5 separate regions of the Homo sapiens genome follow, and all the other regions are linked to region 3. Evidence: fine-mapped expression QTL. A gene starts in region 3. Each other region holds a variant in brackets. All regions are shown on one strand. Distances are from middle to middle.

Region 1 (4,222 bases), 34 kb before region 3:
TATATGTACTTTTTTTAATCCATTCATCTGTTGATGGACACTTAGGTTGCTTCCAAATCTTAGCTATTATGGGCTGGGCACGGTGGCTCACGCCATCATCCCAGCACTTTGGGAGGCTGAGGTGGGCAGATCACTCGAGGTCAGGAGTTCGAGACTAGCCTGGACAACATGGTGAAGCCCCGTCTTTACTAAAAATACAAAAATTATCCTGGCATGGTGATGCACACCTGTAATTCCAGCTACTAGGGAGGCTGAGGCAGCAGAATCTCTTGAACCCGGGAGGTGGAGATTGCAGTGAGCTGAGATTGTGCCAATGCACTCCAACTTGGGTGACAGAGCGAGACTCTGTCTCAAAAAGGAAAAAAAAAAGAAGAAAACAAATCTTAGCTATTATGAACAGTGCTGCAACAAACATAGGAGTTCAAATATCTCTTTAATATACTGGTTTCCTTTTTTTGTGACTGTATACCCAACAATGCGACTGCTGGATCATATGGTAGCTCTATTTTTCGTTTTCTTGAGGAACTTCCAAACTATTCTCCATATAGGTTGTACTAATTTACATTCCCATCAACAGTGTATGAGGGTTCCCTTTTCTCCACATCCTTGCCAGCCTTTGTTGTTATCTGTTTTTTGGATATAAGCCATTTTAACTGGGGCGAGATGATAGATATCTGATTGTAGTTTTGATTTGCATTTATCTGATGATCAATGATGTTGAGCACCTTTTCATATGTCTGTTTATCATTTGTATGTCTTCTTTAGAGAGGTGTCTATTCAAGTCTTTTGCTCATTTTTTGATTGGATGATTAGATTTTTTTTCCTACAGAGTTGTTCGAGCTCCTTATATATTCTTGTTGTTAATTCTTTGTGAGATGAATATGTTGCAAATATTCTCTCCCATTCTGTGGGTTGCCTCTTTACTTTGTTGATTGTTTCCTTTTCTGTAAAGAAGTTTTTAACCTCGAAGTGATCCCAGTTGTCCATTTTTGCTTTGGTTGCCTGTGCTTGTGGGGGTATTGTTCAAAAAATTTTTGCCCAGACTAATGTCCTGGAGATTTTCCCTAATGTTTTCCTCTAGTAGTTTCATGGTTTGGGGTCTTGGACTTAAGTCTTTAATCAATTTTGAGTTGTTTTTTTTTTCTTTTTTTTTTTTGTTGAGACAGAGTCTCACTCCATCGCCCAGGCTGGAGTGCAGTGATGTGATCTCAATCTCCACCTCCCGGGTTCAAGCGATTCTCCTGCCTCAGCCTCCTGAGTAGCTGAGATTACAGGTGCCCAGCTAATTTTATAAAATATTTTTAGTAGAGATGGGGTTTCACCATGTTGGACAGGTTGGTCTCAAACTCCTGACCTCAGGTAATCTGCTCACCTCAGCCTCCCAAAGTGCTGGGATTACAGGCATGAGCCACTGCACTCAGCCTGATTTAATTTTTTATATGGTGAGAGATAGGGATCTAGTTTTATTCTTCTGCATATGGATATCCAGTATTCCCAGCACCATTTATTGAAGAGATTCTTTTTCCCAGTGTATGTTCTTAGACCTTTATCAAAAATGAGCTCACTGTAAGTGTGTGGATTTGTTTCTGGGTTTTCTATTGTTCCATTGGTCTATGTGTCTGTCTTTATGCCAGTGTCATGCTGTTTTGGTTACCATAGTTCTGTAGTATAATTTGAAGTCAGATAATGTGATTCATCCAGTTTTGTTATTTTTGCTTAGGATAGGTTTGGCTATTCTGGGTCTTTTGTGGTTCCATACAAATTTTAAAATAGTTTTTATCTATTTCTGTGAAGAATGTAAGTGGTATTTTGATAGGGATTGCACTGAATCTGTAGATTGCTTTGGGTGGTATGGACATTTTAACCATATTGATTCTTCCAATCCATGAACATGAACTACTTTTTCATTTTTTGTTGTCCTCTTCAATTTCTTTCATCAGTGTTTTATAGTTCTCATTACAGAGATTTTTCACTCCTTTCATTAAGTTAATTCCTAGGCATTTAATTTTATTTGTAGCTGTTATAAATGGGATTACTTTTTAATTTCTTTTTCAGATTGCTCACTGTTGGCATATAGAAATGCTACTGATTTTTCTATGTTGTTTTTGTATCCTGCAGCTTTACTGAATTTATCAGTTCTAATAGTTTTCTTGTAGAATCTTTAGGTTTTTCCAACTATAAGATCATATCATCTGCAAACAAGGATAATTTGACTTCTTCCATTCCAATTTGAATGCCCTTTATTTCTTTCTCTTGTCTGATTGCTTTAGCTAGGACTTCCAGTACTATGTTGAATAACAGTGGTGAAAGTGGCCATCCTTGTCATGTTCCAGATCTTAGGGGAAAGGCTTTCAGTTTTTCCTCATTTAGTATGATACTAGCTGTGTGTCTGTGGTATATGGCTTTTGTTATGTTGAGGTATGTTCCTTCTATACCCAGTTTTTTGAGGGTTTTTATGACAAAGGGATGTTG[AT/A]TTTTTTTTTTTCCAAGATGGAGTCTCAGTCTGTCACCCAGGCTGGAGTGCAGTGTCGTGATCTCGGCTCACTGCAACCTCCACCTCCTAGGTTCAAGCAATTCTCCTGCCTCAGCCTCCTGAGTAGCTGGGATTACAGGTGCCTGCCACCACACCCAGCTAATTTTTGTATTTTTAGTAGAGACAGAGTTTCACCATGTTGACCAGGCTGGTCTCGAACTCCTGACCTCGTGATCTGCCCACCTTGGCCTCCCAAAGTACTGGGATTACAGGTATCAGCCACTGCACCTGGCTGGGATGTTGAATTTTATCAAATGGTTTTCTGCATCAATTGAAATGATCATGAGATTTTTTTTTTCATTCTGTTCATATGACACATCACACATGTTGGGAGCAGGCCCCCCAAGATCTGGCCATAAACTGGCCCCAAAAATGGCCATAAACAAAATCTCTGCAGCACTGTAACATGTTCATAATGGCCCTAACGCCCAAGCTGGGAGGTTCTGGGTTTACGGGAATGAGGGTAAGCAACACCTGGCCCACTCAGGGCGGAAAACCACTTAAAGGCATTCTTAAGTCACAAACAATAGCATGAGCAATCTGTGCCTTAAGGACATGCTCCTACTGCAGTTAACTAGCCCAACCTATTTCTTTAATTTGGCCCATCCCTTCGTTTTCCATAAGGGATACTTTTAGTTAATTTAGTATCTATAGAAACAATGCTAATGACTGGTTTGCTGTTAATAAATATGTGGGTAAATCTCTGTTTGGGGCTCTCAGCTCTGAAGGCTGTGAGACCCCTGATTTCCCACTTCACACCTCTATATTTCTGTGTGTGTGTCTTTAATTCCTCTAGTGCCTCTGGGTTAGGGTCTCCCTGACCGAGCTGGTCTCAGCAAGTGGCGTCCATTTGTGGGGGCTCAAATCCAGGTCGAAGGGTCACCGGAGCAATGGTTGGAAGGGAAAACTAGCTGGAGGACACCCGAGTACTCTTAAAGCAATCCCCATGGTAAGAAGGGGAGCTCGGAAGCATCAGGGTAACAATGGAACAGGTGTGGGGTCTGGTTCATTTCCCCTTGGAACTTTTCACACTGATAATGAGGAGGAACAAGAGTATAGTGAAGTAACAGAAGAGGTTACAGAGCATGTTTATTAACCATATAAAGCTAAAGTGGCAAAGGAAGGAGAGATTCATCCCTACCCTTCTGCACCCCCTCATTATTATTTTGAAGAAAAAGACCCTCCAGATCTTTCTTTTCCAGAGGACACCGGGCAAAAAGTAGTTGTCCCAGTGACTGTTCAAGCAGCACCTTGAGTGACCGCTCTTAGTTCTATTCAGGCAGGAATTCAGCAAGCTAGATGAGAGGGTGATTTAGAGGCTTGGCAGTTCCCTGTTAGACTACAACTCCCAGATCAACGGGGAAGTATTATAGCTACATTTGAGCATTTTCCTTTTAAATTACTCAAAGAATTTAAACAAGCTATAAATCAGTATGGACCAGGTTCTCCTTTTGTAATGGGACCGTTAAAGAATGTTGCTGTTTCCAGTTGGATGATTCCTACTGACTGGGATGCTGTTACTCAAGCTTGTCTAACTCCTGGTCAGTTCTTACAATTTAAAACTTGGTGGGCAGATGAAGCTTCCATTCAGGCTGCTTGCAATGCCCAGGCCCAACATCAAATTAATGTAACTGTAGACCAACTTTTGGGGGTTGGCGGCTGGGCTGGTTTAGATGCGCAACTGGTCAT
Region 2 (4,222 bases), 29 kb after region 3:
CCGGCCTCACTTATGTATTCTAATGCTGATTCTAACATTTAGAAGCCTTTACTGAACCAGGTATGAATCGTCTGATGTAGAAGGGACTATGTTCAGTGTTTGTTGCTTTTGTCAGGTGCATGTGAGGGAACCCTGGCTTGTTCAACCTGTCACCTCATCTTTGAAGATCACATATATGAGAAGTTAGATGCAATCACTGATGAGGAGAATGACATGCTCGATCTGGCATATGGACTAACAGACAGGTAAGATTTTTGGACTGCTTCAATTGTAATAATAATCTGGGAACATAGATGTTGTATTATGTTGTCTATGTAAGACCAGACCCATAAATGTAATAGTGTTCTACCAGGTTAAATAACAGTCACAGATTTTGAGTATCAGATATGTGGCATTTCTCTTTGTTTTCACTGTTCTACAGTTTAGACCTTATGAAATTTTACAAAAGTAAAAAAAATTAATTGGAAGTATAAGTTCTAGATCCTAACACCTCTTCTTTAGTCTCTTTTTACTCCAGGAACTAATATGTATCACAACTGAATGGAGGGGTTAAATCTAATGCTTTTATATTTGATAATTGAACACAATTATAATGGAAAGTTTCACCTATTAGAACAGAATTTTTAAAGAAACTTAATATATAATAGTAATTATGTTAAAATGAATAGCTCTTTTTCTAAGTGTACCTTAAAGTAATCAGAGCTTATTCTTGTTATTAATTAATAGTTACTCTTAAAAGTGGTGAGATTTACAGTAGCAAGTGACATCAAGTGATATCTTATTTTTTAAAAAAATTATCTAGTCTTTTGATTGGAGTCAATGAAGGTAGCTAGCTGATATACTATTTCAAGGGGTAAGATAATGAGGGCATATTACTTAATTAAGGTTGGCTTTGTTTAACTCTAGTTTGGTGACCTTAATGACAAATAATTTTTTAAAAATTAAAGATAGTAATAATAGTTTTATTTCATGTGTATTATATAGCTACAATTTTGTTATACACTTTTAATATAAACTACCTCATTTAATCCTCACAAACATTTTCAGGTCATTTGTATTTATTTAGAGAAGAAGAATCATTTTGTTCCTTTTATAGTTCATTTCCCTCTTGGTGGATGTGAGACTGATAACCCTGGGAAGAGAAACTGGTGAAATAGTATCTCTTTGGACACCAAAGCAGAGTGGATTGTGGCTACTGTCTGCCTGTCCTCTCACATCTTCAGTGCCGTGTTCTCTATGAGCACCTCCTTTCTTCCCCTTAACACAGAAACTAAATCCAATGACTGTATTAGTTTGGTTCTGAGAATTGTGTCTCTTAATAAGAGAGTTAAATCATAGCTAACTGCTTGCTCTTTTATACAGTTACAATTTGTAGATGCCTGTAATAGATAATATTCTAATTGAAAAGAAAGGGAAAAGGGAGAGCTACAGTTAGATACAAAAGGTCTATAATAAATGTAAGCTAGCAAGAGTATTGATGATAAAATTTCCAAGTTTTACAGCTACACAATAGAGAGCAAGGAATAGCTTTTATGGTGTTTTATAGCTGGTATTCTTAAGTACACAGCATTTTAGTAGAAATACTTTGTGGGAAAGAGTATAATGGGTTTCACAGGTAGCATTTACAAAACACATTGACATATTTGGAATGGAAAGAATTTTGCTCAAAGCTAGTAACCACATGTAAACTTATTTTTAGGGTATCAGAAAGTTTCAGAAAAAGAAATAAGGAAATTCAGCCTTTTAGTTCATATACTTACTTTAAATACTATGTAAATGTTTTTAATTTTTAAGCAAAAACACCATCGTTTCTTTTTTTTTTTGAGGCAGAGTCTTGCTTTGTCACCCTTGCTGGAGTGCAGTGACATGATCTTGGCTCACTGCAACCTCTGCCTCCCGGGTTCAAGCAATTATCCTGCCTCAGCCTCCCGAGTAGCTGGGATTACAGGTGCCTGCCACCATGCCCCGCTAATTTTTGTATTTTGAGTAGAGACGGGGTTTCACCATGTTGGCCAGGCTGTCTCGAACTCCTGACCTCATGATCTGCCCACCTTGGCCTCCCAAAGTGCTGGGATTACAGGCGTGAGCCACCGTGCCTGGCTTCAATGTTTTATTGGTTGTCCTTAACCTTGATTGTTGATGGATGGATGGATGATACATGGACAGCCTCATTGTTTTTTTCATACTGGTTACCTATCTCCCTTTTCCCATTAAAGGAGCAGCCATGTCTTATTTTACCATTGTATCTCTAATGCCAGATTCACAGTAGAGGTCACCAACTGCTTGCGGAATTAATAGTTGATGGAAAGGGAGATTCAGGAATTACCTGTGAGTTTACATTGGATGATTGTAATTGCTCCCTGCCACCAGTTTGCATGGGTAATCTACACAGAGGCCTCAGATTCCTTATATGT[A/G]AGGTGAGGATAATAATAGTACCTACCTCACAGTATTGCTGTGTGGAGTTAATGAGGAAATATATGTGAAGCTCTCAGAACAGTGCTTGGTGGAGAAAGCATTCATTAAATGGTAGTTGTTAGCATTGTAACTACCATCATATCGACTTATCTATTGGGAACTTACTGTAATGCCTAGGCACTTAAGTATTATTTCTAACCTTCAGGGTTAGGCAGTACTATCACCATGTTGTAGGTGGGGAAACAAGGTTTAGTTATCACGGATTTGCTTAAGGCTGCACAGCTAGTGGGTAACACCCCTGATTTAAATCCAGCTGTGTTGGGCCCCAAAGCCTTTAGTCTTTTACTATTTCAAGCTGCTTCTCTGAGTTGAAAACCAAACCCTAGAACTAAAGTAAACCTAATACCCAGTATATTTTCACCATCAGGGATATGTGGCAAGAGTAACTGGAGAAAATACCTTCCAGGTTTGCAGAAGTGTCAAAATGTTGTGGGACTCAAAGTGTGAAATCAGGGGAGCCTTGTTGTTTGTCTCCTTCTCTAGAAGTATGAGACACCATCTATACTGGTGGATCTTGGAGCCAGAGATCTTTAAGGAGGTAGAAGAAGTAGGAGAGTGAGAAACTAGCCACAGAGCGCCACTGCCTTATTCTCTAGACTGAGCAGGAGCTTTTTGTTCCGTCTCTTTCTGTGTTCCCATAACAGATTTATTGTTCTTCTATCACCACACTTGTGGTACCCTGCCATGTTTCACTGATAACTGTTTCCATCTCTGTTTCCCTTACTAAAGTAACCGTTCCTTGAAGACCAGCATCATCTTGCTATCTGTGTATGAATACCAAGAGTAACCAACAGACTCTCTAGAGCTCACTGCTGTCTTAACGAATTTGTCCAAATTGGCTTGCCACTTTTTCTCTCTTGCAGACAGAGCTTAATGCATAATTGAGTATTGTGAAGGCTGTTTCCAATTCTACAAATAAAGAACTCTTGATAGAGGGGATTTTTTTTCTATTAGTAATCAGTATTTCTCATGGTTAAGCACACTCCTTTACTCCAAAACTTCCTGGTGGTTCCTCCTTGCTCACCAGTGAAACACAGGCCCCTTAACTGATATTCACAGCTGCCTGTGGCTCTGGCCGCTTTTCTGGCCCATCATTCCCCTTGTCCTTGTTTACGCTGTGCAGCAACCAAGCTAAAACACCCATCTTGCTTTAAATGTGACTTGAGCTTCTTTGCATTGTGTTGCCTTTGCCTCACATACTTTTCTCCTTTATCTTGTACTAAATAGTAAATCCTACCTATCCTCCAAAGCCCATTGTGGACAACACCTTCTGTGGCCAGAAGTAAGGGCTTTCTTCTTAGACCTCTCAGAGCCATTTGGCTTTCTCCCTCGGTGGCATTTGCCACAGTCTCACATGTTAACTATCTGAATGTGTCTCATCTCATCCCTTTGATTGAAAGTTTACTCATTAATGCTGGCATTAGCAACCAATCCTCACAGCAGTCCTGTGAGGAATTCTCCTGCTCATCTTGAAGATTAGGTTAGGAAACTACCATTTGGTGAGGTTAAGCAAGTTGCCTGTGAACATGGTATATTAAGTGCTGGATTCTGCACTGCTGGTCTCTTTGGCTGTAACTCTGATGCTGTCTCTTTAGTGCATCCCAATGCCCAGAAAATAAGAAGTGTTCAGTAAGAAAGTGTGGAGTTGATTTGCTCTTCCTCATTGACATTTAGTGTTGTGCCTTTAGGTGCTCAATAAATGCTTCATGAGTACATTAATAAAACCAAGACCTGAATATCAGATTTC
Region 3 (4,222 bases):
TTGCCCTTCTTGCAGCATGTGAGGACACAGCAACAGGACACCATCTTGGAAGCAGAGACTGGGCCTCTCTATCAGACATTAAACCAGTTGGCACCTGGGCGACCCAGTATCCAGAACTGTGAGAAAATAAATTCCTGTTCTTTACACATTACCCAGTCTGTGTGTTATTCTGTTATAGCATCATAAACAGAATAAGACAAAAGTCTTCAAACAATGAATGGATTTTGAAAGGAGTAAAAGATGGGCTGGGCATGGTGGCTCATGCCTGTAGTCCCGGCACTTTGGAAGGCTGAGGTGGGCAGATTGCTTGAGCTCAGGAGTTCCAGACTAGCCTGGGCAACATGGCAAAACCCCATCTCTAAGGAAAAAAAGAAAAAAAAAGGGATGGAGGGGTGGGAGTTTTATAGACAAAGAAATACATAAGCAAACAGATAAGCAAAAGCACGTCCTCAGTAATTCCATGTTGCTTTATCTGTATTCATGATCATGTTTACAAATCCATTCTGGAATTCTGCTGACTACTGATATTTGCAATTTTTGGCATTACTTCTCATCCACCTTAGAAAACCTGGAGAACATTTTTTCTATCTTTAATCTTCATATACATGCTTAATGAATTCTGATGATTATTAATGGAAATTTCATAACATCAATTTATTCACCAATATTTATTAGACCCTTGATATGTTCAAGACCCTGTAGCTGGTGCTGTCGGAGTCACTAAGATGAACTATATAAATAACTACTCTATGTGTACGAATAACTACCCTACAAAGCAGAAAGCTATCAAGTGCCTTAAGGGAGTTGAAACTGTATTTGCTACAGGAGGGCTGAGAGAAGACAGAACATCTACGATTTTTTTTCTTTTCAATTCTCTTCCTACAACTAATTCATCCGACCTTGGAAGTTTGGTCTTACTAAAAACAAAAGTTAGCTGTTCTTTTACAACCTCCTCTTCAAGATTACTTGTCAGGGTTTGCTGTGCCCTTCGCAGCTTGAAAGACTTTCTCTTCATCCAACGATTTGAGGCAATTAGGAGCCACTGCCTTCTCTCTGCCATTGGGTTCCAGAAAGCACCATACATTGTCCGCAGATACTTTACTCATGCTTACACTTTCTTGTTCTGAATCTTCAAAAATTAGTGGCGTGTGGTGGCACACGCCTGTAGTCCTAGCTACTCGGGAGGCTGAGGCAGGAGAATCACTTGAACCTGGGAGGCGGAGGTTGCAGTGAGCCGAGATTTCGCCACTGCACTACAGCCTGGGCAGAATAGAGAGACCCCATGTCAAAAAAAGAAAAAAAAAGTATCTGATTGTGTTTAGCATATCTGCAATATCCCCTTGACTTTGGCCTTTAGCCTCTTTATGAGTACCCTGATGGAGGAAGGCCCAGGAAGCGGTAGCCTTCCTGGTTTGTGACGCACGGTGTGCATTGCGTATTAGATTAACATCAGAATGGCCCTGAAGGCTGGAACATCTTATCTGTGTTTGAGAGTTATGGAAACTCTGATCCTCCATGAGAATAATTTTTCCAAGGTCTCAGATCTCTAAAGCAGTAGATCTTGGATCTGAACATTGCTATTTCTGACCTTAAAGCCCATGCATTTCCCACAACATATGAACCATGATAAGGTGTATTTTAAAGTTCATCTTTTCTGTTTTTTGTGAAAGTCTTTTAGAGATCTCAGCTCATCACAAAGTTTCCGGTTCAGTCTCGTGGGTTTCATGTACTCAGCCAGCATTTACTTGCCAGTCAAGGTCTAGGATGGCTACCTGTCCTCTGCAGGAGCCCCAAGCCTATTCATTAATTTCATTTACAATTTTATAGTCATAATTATTTCTTTGTATAATAGCATTCTGAGATTTTCCAAAATTTCCCACTGTTTTTGTTTTACAGTGGGCAGAATTCACTTTGCTCTAACTTGACTCCAAGATGACACAATTTCCCAGTTTTTTTTTTAACGGCTAGGGGATGGGGGTATGCGGAACAGAACACAGTGGTCTAGCTAACCGATTTCCGCTAGACGTCCAGCTATCTTTCAAAATATTTTGTTTCTGCACGGCAACTTCAGCCGCTAAAAAAGCATCCAGCTTACAACGGAACCTGGAGGGTTGGTAAAGGCCCCCTGCGCTGGCCCCGCCCCATGGGACCGGGCGGCGTGGGCGTGAGAGGCGGGGCGGGGCCGCGCTCTGCTTGCCAATGTCTTTATAGGTCACCCGGAAGGCACGCGGAACCTCGGCGCGGTGCTTCCAGCAGGGTCTCTCCGCCACTCCAGCCCCGCGCCCCTCGCCGCGGCCCTCGGGCGTCTGCGCCGCAGCTGCCGCCCCCGCCTCTTTGGAGTCTCTCGCGGCCTCAAAGCGCGGCCTGCGTCGCTTCCGGCAGTTCCCGACCGCGGGCGATGGCTGCCGCTGGGGGCGCCCGGCTGCTGCGCGCCGCTTCTGCTGTCCTCGGCGGCCCGGCCGGCCGGTGGCTGCACCACGCTGGGTCCCGCGCTGGATCCAGCGGCCTGCTGAGGAACCGGGGGCCGGGCGGGAGCGCGGAGGCGAGCCGGTCGCTGAGCGTGTCGGCGCGGGCCCGGAGCAGGTAGGGCGCCGTGCGGGCGCGATCGCCGGCGCGGGCCGGGGTCCCCGGTGGGTGGCGCCTGGCTCTCTGGGCCGAGTCTCTGGTTCCAGTGCCTTCTGCGCGCCGGGCCCACACCCCGGAGGCCTGCCTCTCGCCCCCCTCTTCTGGGGTGCTCTCGCGGCTCCGTCTCGCTGCTCGGTGGCGTCGCTGCCTCCCTTCCGTCGCACCGCAGAGTTCCTTTCCGCATCACCCACTCCCGGCGGGAATCGGGGACCCTGGACGCCCAGCTCCCTTTCCCAGCGCTTCCCGTGCCCTGAGGAAAGCCGGGACTTTGCTGCTGCTTGTTCTCCGTGTGATTTGTCTGGGATCTGACCTTTGCTCTGCCCGAAACTGGCAGTGACCTTCGCGACAGGCTTCCCTCCTGCTGTCCTGGCCTGACACACCTGCCAGCTGTTTTTTTCAGGGCCTTGCCCTGCTTTGAGAGGACACCCAGGTCCCAGGTCTTTGTCAGGGGGTGTCCAGGTAGAATACACCCAGCCCATACCCTCTGCTGCCCTGTAGGCCCTTTGCTAGTTGCTCAAGTGTTGAAAGCCCCTGCGTTGAAGTAATCTGCCGGGACTTGAAACTTGGCTTTGGCACTGATTGTCTGACGTGCCTAACTTGGTCAGTCCTTAGGAACCCAGTTTCTCCATTTGCAAGTTGGATATAATAACAGTGTAGACCTCCTATGGTTAATTGAAGAATCAATGAGTTAATACAGCGATACAGGTAGTCTTGTGCCTAGCACGTAATGAGGGCTCAGTAGATGCCACTTGGTAGCAGCAGCAGCAGCAGCAGCAGCAGCAGCAGCAGCTTCTTAGGTTCACAATGTTAAGAGAGTTTTGTATTAAATATTGAAAGAAATGTGACAATTTATCCCAAATGTGTTGAAGTTTTAGGTTCTTGGGCATATTTGTTTTTCAAAGACACTCCTTAGATATACTAGAGATACAATTTACACATAATTTTTACCAACATGGTGGCGATTTATATAATGCAGATCTCTCGACAGCTCTTTGACCGCATGATGTAGGGTAGCAGGAATCGAGAACTAGAGGGAGAGTGTGTTGGATTTGTACGCTGCTTTGTCTAGTTTCTTTTTGAGGTCTCTGAGAGCAGGGTCTAAGACTTTCAGTCATCTTTTCCCCACTAATCCCGTTATCTAGTGGGTGCTCCATACATTTTTGTTGTGTGAACTTTGGGGGAAATCAGGGAGAAGGCAAGCCAGATTTATTTGTTCCTGTTTCCTCTGCACTTCCCCCCCTGTCTTTGACCAGTGTGGGTACCTTGCTTTCTGTTATACAATGGATGAGTTTTGGACAACTGAATCAATTGGGACAGATATTGAACATGCTTGTGTAACTGGTATAAGGGAACATGAATGTTTTTGTAGTAATTGGGAGTTATCTTTCTCAGATTTGTTTTTTGGATTTGGATATGTCAGGTTGTTTTAAAGGGGAGCACGTCTATTTCCTCATAATCCTGCTGCCCTCTTTATTGGCACAATTTCTATTCATGGTCTTATCATTCCTCTTACAGACTTTGGAGCTACAACTGGATTTTCCAGTTCTTACTGTGTTAATGAGACTTGTGCTGTAACTACCGTAACTACTAATCACAT
Region 4 (4,222 bases), 27 kb before region 3:
TTTGAGAATGCATCAGTAAGGGCCACTAACTCTGACCTTCCTCAGTCCTCCTTGTGGTGTAGGAGGAAAACTAGTGTTTCTGTTGCTGTGTTGGTGAGTGCAACTATTCCGATCAGCAGGGTCCAGGGACCATCACAGGTTCTTGGGCAGGGGGAGAAACAAACAAACCAAAACGGTGGGTGGTTTTGTCTTTCAGATGGGAAACACTCAGACATCAACAGGCTCACCCTTGAAATGCATCCTAAGCCATTGGGACCAATTTGATCTGCAAACCCTGAAAAAGAGGTGGCTCATTTTTTTTCCTGCACTACAGCCTGGCCCCAATATTCTCTCTCTGATGGGGAAAAATGGTCACCTGAGGGAAGTATAAATTACAATACTATCATGCAGCTTGACCTTTTCTGTAAGAGGGAAGGCAAATGGAGTGAAATACCTTATGTCCAAGCTTTCTTTTCATTGAAGGAGAATACACAACTAGGCAAAGCTTGCAATTTACATCCCACAGGAGGACCTCTCGGCTTACCCCATATCCTAGCCTCCCTATAGCTCCCTTTCCTATTAATGATAAGCCTCCTCTAATCTCCCCTGCTCAGAAGGAAATAAGCAAAGAAATCTCCAGAAGATCACAAAAACCCCCGGGCTATTGGTTATGTCCCCTTCAAGCTGTAGGGGGAGGGGAATTTGGCCCAACCCAGGTACACGTCCCCTTCTCCCTCTCTGATTTAAAGCAGATCAAGGCAGACCTGGGGAAGTTTTCAGATGATCATGATATGCACATAGATGTCCTACAGGGTCTAGGGCAAACCTTCGATCTCATTGGAGAGATGTCATGCTATTGTTAGATCAAACCCTGGCCTTTACTGAAAAGAATGTGGCTTTAGCTGCAGCCCAAGAGTTTGGAGATACCTGGTATCTTAGTCAAGTAAATGATAGACTGACAGCCAAAGAAAGGGACAAATTCCCTACTGGTCAGCAAGCCATCCCCAGTATGGATCCCCACTGGGACCTTGACTCAGATCATGGGGACTGGAGTCATAAACATCTGTTGACCTGTGTTCTAGAAGGACTAAGGATAATTAGGAAAAAGCCCATGAATTATTCAATGATGTCCACCATGACTCAGGGAAAGGAAGAAAATCCTTCTGCCTTCCTCGATTGGCTACGGGAGGCCTTAAGAAAATATACTTCCCTGTCACCTGACTCACTAGAGGGTCAATTGATTCTAAAAGATAAGCTTATTACCCAATCAGCTGCAGAAATCAGAAGAAAGCTCCAAAAGCGAGCCCTGGGCCCTGAACAAAATCTGGAGGCATTATTAAACCTGGCAACTTCAGTGTTCTATAATAGGGGCCAAGAAGAACAGGCCCAAAAGGAAAAGTGAGATCAGAGAAAGGCCACAGCCTTAGTCATGACCCTCAGACAAACAAACCTTGGTGGTTCAGAGAGGACAGAAAATGGAGCAGGCCAATCACCTGGTAGGGCTTGTTATCAGTGTGGTTTACAAGGACACTTTAAAAAAGATTGTCCAATGAGAAACAAGCCACCTCCGCATCCATGTCCACTCTGCCGAGGCAATCACTGGAAGGCACACTGCCCCAGAGTACGATGGTTCTCTGGGCCAGAAGCTCCCAACCAGATGATCCAACAACAGAACTTATGGTGCCCAGGGTAAGCACCAGCTCTTGTCATCACCCTCACTGAGCCCCGGCTATGTTTAACCATTGAGGACCAGGAAATTGACTTCCTCCTGGACACTGGTGTGGCCTTCTCAGTGTTAATCTCCTATCCTGGATGACTGTCCTCAAGGTCCATTACCATCTGAGGAATCCTGGGACAGCCTGTAACCAGGTATTTCTCCCACCTCCTCTGTTGTAATTGGGAGACTTTGCTCTTTTCACATGCCTTTCTTGTTATGCCTGAAAGTTCCACACCCTTATTAGGGAGGGATATGTTAGCCAAAGCTGGAGCTATTATCTACATGAATATGGGGAACAAGTTACCCATTCGTTGTCCCCTACTTGAGGAG[G/A]GTCTCAACCCTGAAGTCTGGGCATTGGAAGGACAATGTGGAAGGGCAAAAAAATGCCCACCCAGTCCAAATCAGGCTAAAAGATCCCACCACTTTTCCTTATCAAAGACAATATCCCTTAAGGCCTGAAGTTCATAAAGGATTACAGGATATTGTTAAACATTTAAAAGCTCAAGGCTTAGTAAGGAAATACAGCAGTCCCTGCAACACCCCAATTCTATGAGTACAAAAACCAAATGATCAGTGGAGACTAGTGCAAGATTTTAGACTCATCAGTGAGGCAGTAATTCCTCTATATCCAGTTGTACCCAACCCCTATACCCTGCTCTCTCAAATACCAGAGGAAGCAAAATGGTTCACTGCTCTGGACCTCAAGGATGCCTTCTTCTGTATTCCCCTGCACTCTGACTCCCAGTTTCTCTTTGCCTTTGAGGATCTCACAGACCACACATCCCAACTTACGTGGACCATCTTGCCCCAAGGGTTTAGGGATAGCCCTCATCTCTTTGGTCAGGCACTGGCTCAAGATCTAGGCCACTTCTCAAGTCCAGGCACTCTGGTCCTTCAGTATGTGGATGATTTACTTTTGGCTACCAGTTCAGAAGCCTCATGCCAGCAGGCTACTCTAGATTTCTTGAGCTTTCTAGCAAATCAAGGGTACGAGGCATCTAGGTCGAAGGCCCAGCTTTGCCTACAGCAGGTCAAATATCTAGGCCTAATCTTAGCCAGAGGAACCAGGGCCCTCAGCAAGGAATGAATACAGCCTATACTGGCTTATCCTTGCCCTAAGACATTAAAACAGTTGCGGGGGTTCCTTGGAATCACCGATTTTGCTGACTATGCATCCCTGGATACAGTGAGATATCCAGGCCCCTCTATACTCTAATCAAGGAGACCCAGAGGGCAAATACTCATCTAGTAGAATGGGAACCAGGGGCAGGAACAGCCTTCAAAACCTTAAAGCAGGCACTAGTACAAGCTCCAGCTTTAAGCCTTCCACAGGACAAAACTTCTCTTTATACGTAACAGAGGAGCTGGGATAGCTCTTGCAGTCTTTACTCAGACTCATGGGACATCCCCACAACCAGTGGCATACCTAAGTAAGGAAATTGATGTAGTAGCAAAAGGCTGGCCTCACTGTTTATGTGTAGTTGTGGCAGTGGCCATCTCAGTGTCAGAGGCTATAAAAATAATACAAGGAAAGGATCTCACTGTCTGGACCATTCATGATGTAAATGGCATACTAGGTGCCAAAGGAAGTTTATGGCTATCAGACAACTGCCTACTTAGATACCAAGTGCTACTCCTTGAGGGACCGGTGCTTCAAATACGTACGTGTGTGGCCCTCAACCCTGCCACTTTTCTCCCAGAGGATAGGGAACCAATTGAGCATGACCACCAACAAATTATAGTCCAGACTTATGCCACCCGAGATGATCTCTTAGAAGTCCCCTTAGTTAGTTCTGACCTTAACCTATATACCAATGGAAGTTCATTTGTGAAGAATGGGATATGAAGGGCAGGTTATGCCATAGTTAGTAACGGTACTTGAAAGTAAGCCTCTTCCCCCAGGGACCAGCTCCCAGTTAGCAGAACTAGTGGCACTTACCTGAGCCTTAGAACTGGGAAAAGGAAGAAGAATAAATGTGTGTACAGTTAGCAAGTATGCTTATCTAATCCTACATGCCCATGCTGCAATATGGAAAGAAAGGGAGTTCCTAACCTCTGGGGGAACCCTCATTAAATACCACAAGGAAATTATGGAGTTATTGAATGCAGTGCAAAAACCCAAGGAAGTGGCAGTCTTACACTGCCAAAGCCATCAGAAAAGTGAAGGACAAAAGGCAGAAGGAAACCGTCAGGCAGATGCTGAGGCCAAAATTGCTGCCAGGTGGAACCTCCCATTCCCGCAAAAAAATGGGTCTTTACCAACTTAACCTACCACCCTTGTTATGAAGGAAAAGACCCTTTCCAACTTCTAAATATGCAATCATTAGCCAACTTCCCCATCTCTGATAGGACCAAGAATATACTAACAGGACATGCAATCCAACTTTTGTGTTCTTACATTTCCAACGTCACCTATTACACAAGCAATGAAAAGCCCATACATGGCCCTGTAACTATGAATACCATCTTAACTTTCCAAGCCCCTTTATGCATCCAACGCAACCTGTTATCAGGTCTGCCCCTGGG
Region 5 (4,222 bases), 40 kb before region 3:
CCCAGCCATGTGAGGTGTCAGTCTGCCCCTACTGGGAGGTGCCTCCCAGTTAGGCTACTCAGGGGTCAGGGACCAACTTGAGGAGGCAGTCTGTCCATTCTCAGATCTCAGGCTCTGTGCTGGGAGAACCACTACTCTCTTCCAAGCTGTCCGACAGGGACTTTTAAGTCTGCAGAGGTTTCTACTGCCTTTTGTTCTGCTATGCCCTGCCCCCATAGGTGGAGTCTACAGAGGCAGGCAGGCCTCCTTGAGCTGCGGTGGGCTCCACCCAGTTCGAGCTTCCTGGCCGCTTTGTTTACCTACTCAAGCCTCAGCAATGGTGAGCTCCCCTCCCCCAGTCTCGCTGTGGTGTTGCAGTTTGATCTCAGACTGGTGTGCTGGCAATGAGCGAGGCTCTGTGGGCGTAGGACCCTCCGAGCCATGCGCAGGATATAATATCCTGGTGTGCTGTTTGCTAAGACCATTGGAAAAGTGCAGTATTAGGGTGGGAGTGACCCAATTTTCCAGGTGCCATTTGTCACCCCTTCCCTTGGCTATGAAAGAGAATTCCCTCACCCCTTGCACTTCCCAGGTGAGGCGATGCCTCGCCCTGCTTCGGCTCATGGTCAGTGCACTGCACCCACTGTCCTGCACCCACTGTCCAACAATCCCCAGTGAGATGAACCTGGTACCTCAGTTGGAAGTGCAGAAATCACCCGCCTTCTGCGTCGCTCATGCTGGGAGCTATAGACTGGAGCTGTTCCTATTCAGCCATCTTTGAACTGCCCCCCTATTTCAGGTACCAATTTTTTTCTTTTCTTTTATGTTTTTGAGACAGATTCTCACTCTGTCACCCAGGTTGAAGTGCAGTGACATGATCTCGGCTCACTGCAACCTCCGCCTCCAGGGTTCAAGCGATTCTCCTGCCTCAGCCTCTCGAGTACCTGGGATTACAGGTGTGTGCCACCATGCCCAGCTAATTTTTGTATTTTTAGTAGAGTTGGGATTTCGTCATATTAGCCAGGCTGGTCTCAAACTCCTGACCTCAAGTGATCTATCTGCCTGCCTCGGCCTCCCAAAGTTCTGGGATTACAGGCATGAACCACTAAGCCCAGCCAATTTTTTTTTTTGTTTGAGACAGAGTTTTGCTTTTGTCACCCAGGCTGGGGTGCAGTGTTATGAACTTGGCTCACTGCAACCTCCACCTCTTGGGTTCAAGTGATTCTCATGCCTCAGCCTCCTGAGTAGATGGGAACCTCCCGAGGTGCACATCACCACACTTGGCTAATTTTTGTATTTTAGTAGAGACCGGGTTTCATCATGTTGGTCAGGCTGGTCTTGAACTCCTGACCTCAGGTGATCCACCTGCCTCAGCCTCCCACAGTGCTGGAATTACAAGCGTGAGCCACACAGCACCTAGCCCCAGCCGATTTTTTTCTTTTCTTTTCTTTTTTCTTTTTTTTGAGGCAATTTTTTTCTTTTATGATTTATGTTTTTGTGTTCTTTCTAGAAAATCTTTGTCTACTTCACAGTCATGAAAATGTTTTTCTGTGCTTTGTTATAAACGGTTTATTGTTCAGCTTTTTTGTTCAGATATGTGATCCATTTGAGTCAATATTATGTATCATTTGAAGAAAGGATCAAGGTTAATTTTTTCCTTTGAAAATGGTATCCCTTTATTCCATCCCCACTTGCAGAAGACACTGTCCTTTCTTCATTAAATTACTTTGGATGCTGTGTTGAAGGTCAACTGACCATTGCAAAAGTGGGTTCTATTTCCTGGTTCAGCTTTCTCACTCCCTTTCAACCTCCCTTTCTTCCTTCCTTCACTTTTCTTAAATTTCTTTTTTGTTGTTAACCAAAGTTCATACCTTATTCAGATTTCCCTAGTTACATTTCCTTAGGGCCTAATGTCTTTTTGCTGTCCCAGGATTTCATCCTGGATACCACATTACATTTAGTCATCATGTCTCTTCAGGTTCCTTTTGGCTGTGACAGTTTCTCAGAAATTTCTTGGTTTTGATGACCTTGGCAATTTCGAAGAGTCCTGGTCAAGTATTTTGTAGAATGTTGCTCAACTGGGGTTTCTTTGATGTTTTTCTCATGGTTAGTCTTGGGTTACGGGTTTTGGGAGGAAGACCACAGGGGTGATGTGACAGTCTCATAACATCATATCAATGCTACACACCGTCAACATGACTTATTGTGTTGATGTTGACTTTGATCAGTTGGATGACGTAGTGTTTGTCAGGTCTTTCCAGTGTAAAGTAATCTTTTCTCCCCCTTTCCATTCTGTACTCTTATGCACAACTTTCACTTAGAATGGGGACTTAATCTTCACTTTTTGAGGGCAGAGTATCTACATAAAATGATTTGGAATTTTTCTGCAGGAAAGAGTTGTCTATTTCTCACTGTTTATTTATTCAGTCATTTATTTATATCAGTATTGGATACTTATTTTATACTTTGGGTTATAATCCATTTTAATTTTTGTTGCTGAAATTGTTTTCTTTGGCCACTGGGA[G/A]CTGTCCCAGTTGGTTCCTGTGTCCCTTTGACATGCCCCAATTGTTGCATATGTCTGTTTCTGAGCAGTTCTTTACATTCTGGTGCTACAAAATGCTCCAGGCTGATTTTGTATATTTTCTGCTCTAGTCGTAGAATTAACCATTTCTCCAAGGATCCCTCCTTTTTTTTTTAATTGGGAAATGCTATTAGAAACTAAGTTCTATACATTCTATTTCTATATTTGTGGGCCATATTACCAACATGAAGAATAAAAGAGAGGATATCACTATAGAATCCTACAAATGCTTAAAAGGTTTGATAAGTTTGACCAGTTCCCTGAAAAATACACACATACACACATCATTGACTTTATTACAAATAATTTTCCCATGAAGAAAACTCCGGGACCGTGTGATTTTGCTAGTTAAGTCTATTGAACATTTAAAGATCCGTAATACTAATATTATACTAACTCTTTGAGAAAGTAGAGGGGTGAACACTTCCCAAAACATTTTATGAGGTTAGTATAAGCCTGATACCAAACCTGAGAGAGAAATTAAAAGAGAAAACGATGTAAATAAAATCCCTTCTTACCACAGATACAGAAATCCCCTGTCAAATACTGGCAGATCAAATCCAGAAATACAGGCCAGGCGTGGTGGCTCACACCTGTAATCCCAGCACTTCGGGAGGTTGAGGTGGGATCCCTTGATGTCAGGAGTTCAAGACTGGCCTGGCCAACGTGGTGAAACCCTGTCTCTACTAAAAATACAAAAATTAGCTGGGGGTGGGGGTGCATGCCTGTAGTCCCAGCTACTTTAGAGGCTGAGATGGTGCCAGTGCACTCCAGCCTGGGCGACAGAGCAACACTACTCTCACAAAAGAAAAGAAAAGAAAAAAATGTAATATAAATTAAATATTAATGTTATATAAATTATTTATATGTAATTGTGTTTGCAAAATTTATAATGGTATATATTCATTTAATTTATATCAGAATGAAATTTTTTTATATGAGGAAAACCTTTTCTAACCAGCAATTAACTAGATGTCAAAGAATACAGTGTCAGAATGCACAAGATAATTAATATTTATGATAATCTGTTAGATTATGTGATGACAGCAAAAAATAAATCTGATTGCATACATGAGAGTTTTTTATTCTTTTACTTCACCCAAACACATCAGGCTATCATCTTTACTTTTCTGTAACAAAGCTCATGTTGACTGAGTTGCAAGTCAAAGTAGAAAACTACTAAAATGAGTTAGAAGAAAACAAGGTACATTAAACCTATAAATTATATAGACATGGAAAGAGCATGAGATTTTAAAGTGAAAAAAATTAGATTGAGTTCTTTAGTCACTATTGGCAAACTGTTTGTCCTTGGGCAAGGTACTTAACCATTCCCCTGAACCTCAGTTTTTCATCTGTGAGATAAAAACAATAACAATAATAGCCTTCAGAAAGCACATAATGCAGGTCTCAGGCTAAGTTTTTTATGTGCATTACCTCATTTAGCCTTCACATCAACCATGTGAGGTGGGTACTGTAATACCGTTATAACCCCAGTCTACAGATGAGGAAACTAAAGCTTGAGAGGTTAGGTAATTCTCCCCATGACATGCAGCAAGTACGTGATGAAGCAGGGATTCAAAGCATGACTCTAAAACCCAGGGCCTTAATTATTACACTATACTACTGCTATGGTTTCCATGTGGTTTGTCTCTGCCAAAACTA

The links. PIP is the estimated chance that this variant, and not a neighbour inherited with it, causes the effect.
Region 1: its variant is the best candidate, but not a certain one, in a credible set for the expression of FDX1 in monocytes after interferon gamma (Fairfax 2014, PIP 0.82).
Region 2: its variant is the best candidate, but not a certain one, in a credible set for the expression of FDX1 in aorta (GTEx, PIP 0.60).
Region 4: its variant is the best candidate, but not a certain one, in a credible set for the expression of FDX1 in lung (TOPMed, PIP 0.80).
Region 5: its variant is the best candidate, but not a certain one, in a credible set for the expression of FDX1 in whole blood (TOPMed, PIP 0.56).

What each region holds. Positions count from the first base shown.
Region 1 is chr11:110,393,361-110,397,582 of GRCh38, forward strand. All of the region lies in intron 3 of LINC02732 (long intergenic non-protein coding RNA 2732), which reads left to right. Among named protein-coding and RNA genes, the nearest start is that of FDX1, 34 kb to the right of the region's middle. The variant AT/A (reference allele first, on the strand shown) is at 2,473.
Region 2 is chr11:110,456,803-110,461,024 of GRCh38, forward strand. It overlaps FDX1 (ferredoxin 1), which reads left to right. Exons shown (of 4, transcript NM_004109.5): 3 at 116-245. Among named protein-coding and RNA genes, the nearest start is that of FDX1, 29 kb to the left of the region's middle. The variant A/G (reference allele first, on the strand shown) is at 2,415.
Region 3 is chr11:110,427,723-110,431,944 of GRCh38, forward strand. FDX1 (ferredoxin 1) reads left to right here and starts at 2,226. Exons shown (of 4, transcript NM_004109.5): 1 at 2,226-2,583. The coding sequence starts at 2,399. RefSeq lists a silencer at 2,040-2,689 and an enhancer at 2,760-3,039.
Region 4 is chr11:110,400,916-110,405,137 of GRCh38, forward strand. The region is part of intron 3 of LINC02732 (long intergenic non-protein coding RNA 2732); the gene reads left to right. Among named protein-coding and RNA genes, the nearest start is that of FDX1, 27 kb to the right of the region's middle. The variant G/A (reference allele first, on the strand shown) is at 2,027.
Region 5 is chr11:110,388,143-110,392,364 of GRCh38, forward strand. All of the region lies in intron 3 of LINC02732 (long intergenic non-protein coding RNA 2732), which reads left to right. Among named protein-coding and RNA genes, the nearest start is that of LINC02732, 35 kb to the left of the region's middle. The variant G/A (reference allele first, on the strand shown) is at 2,504.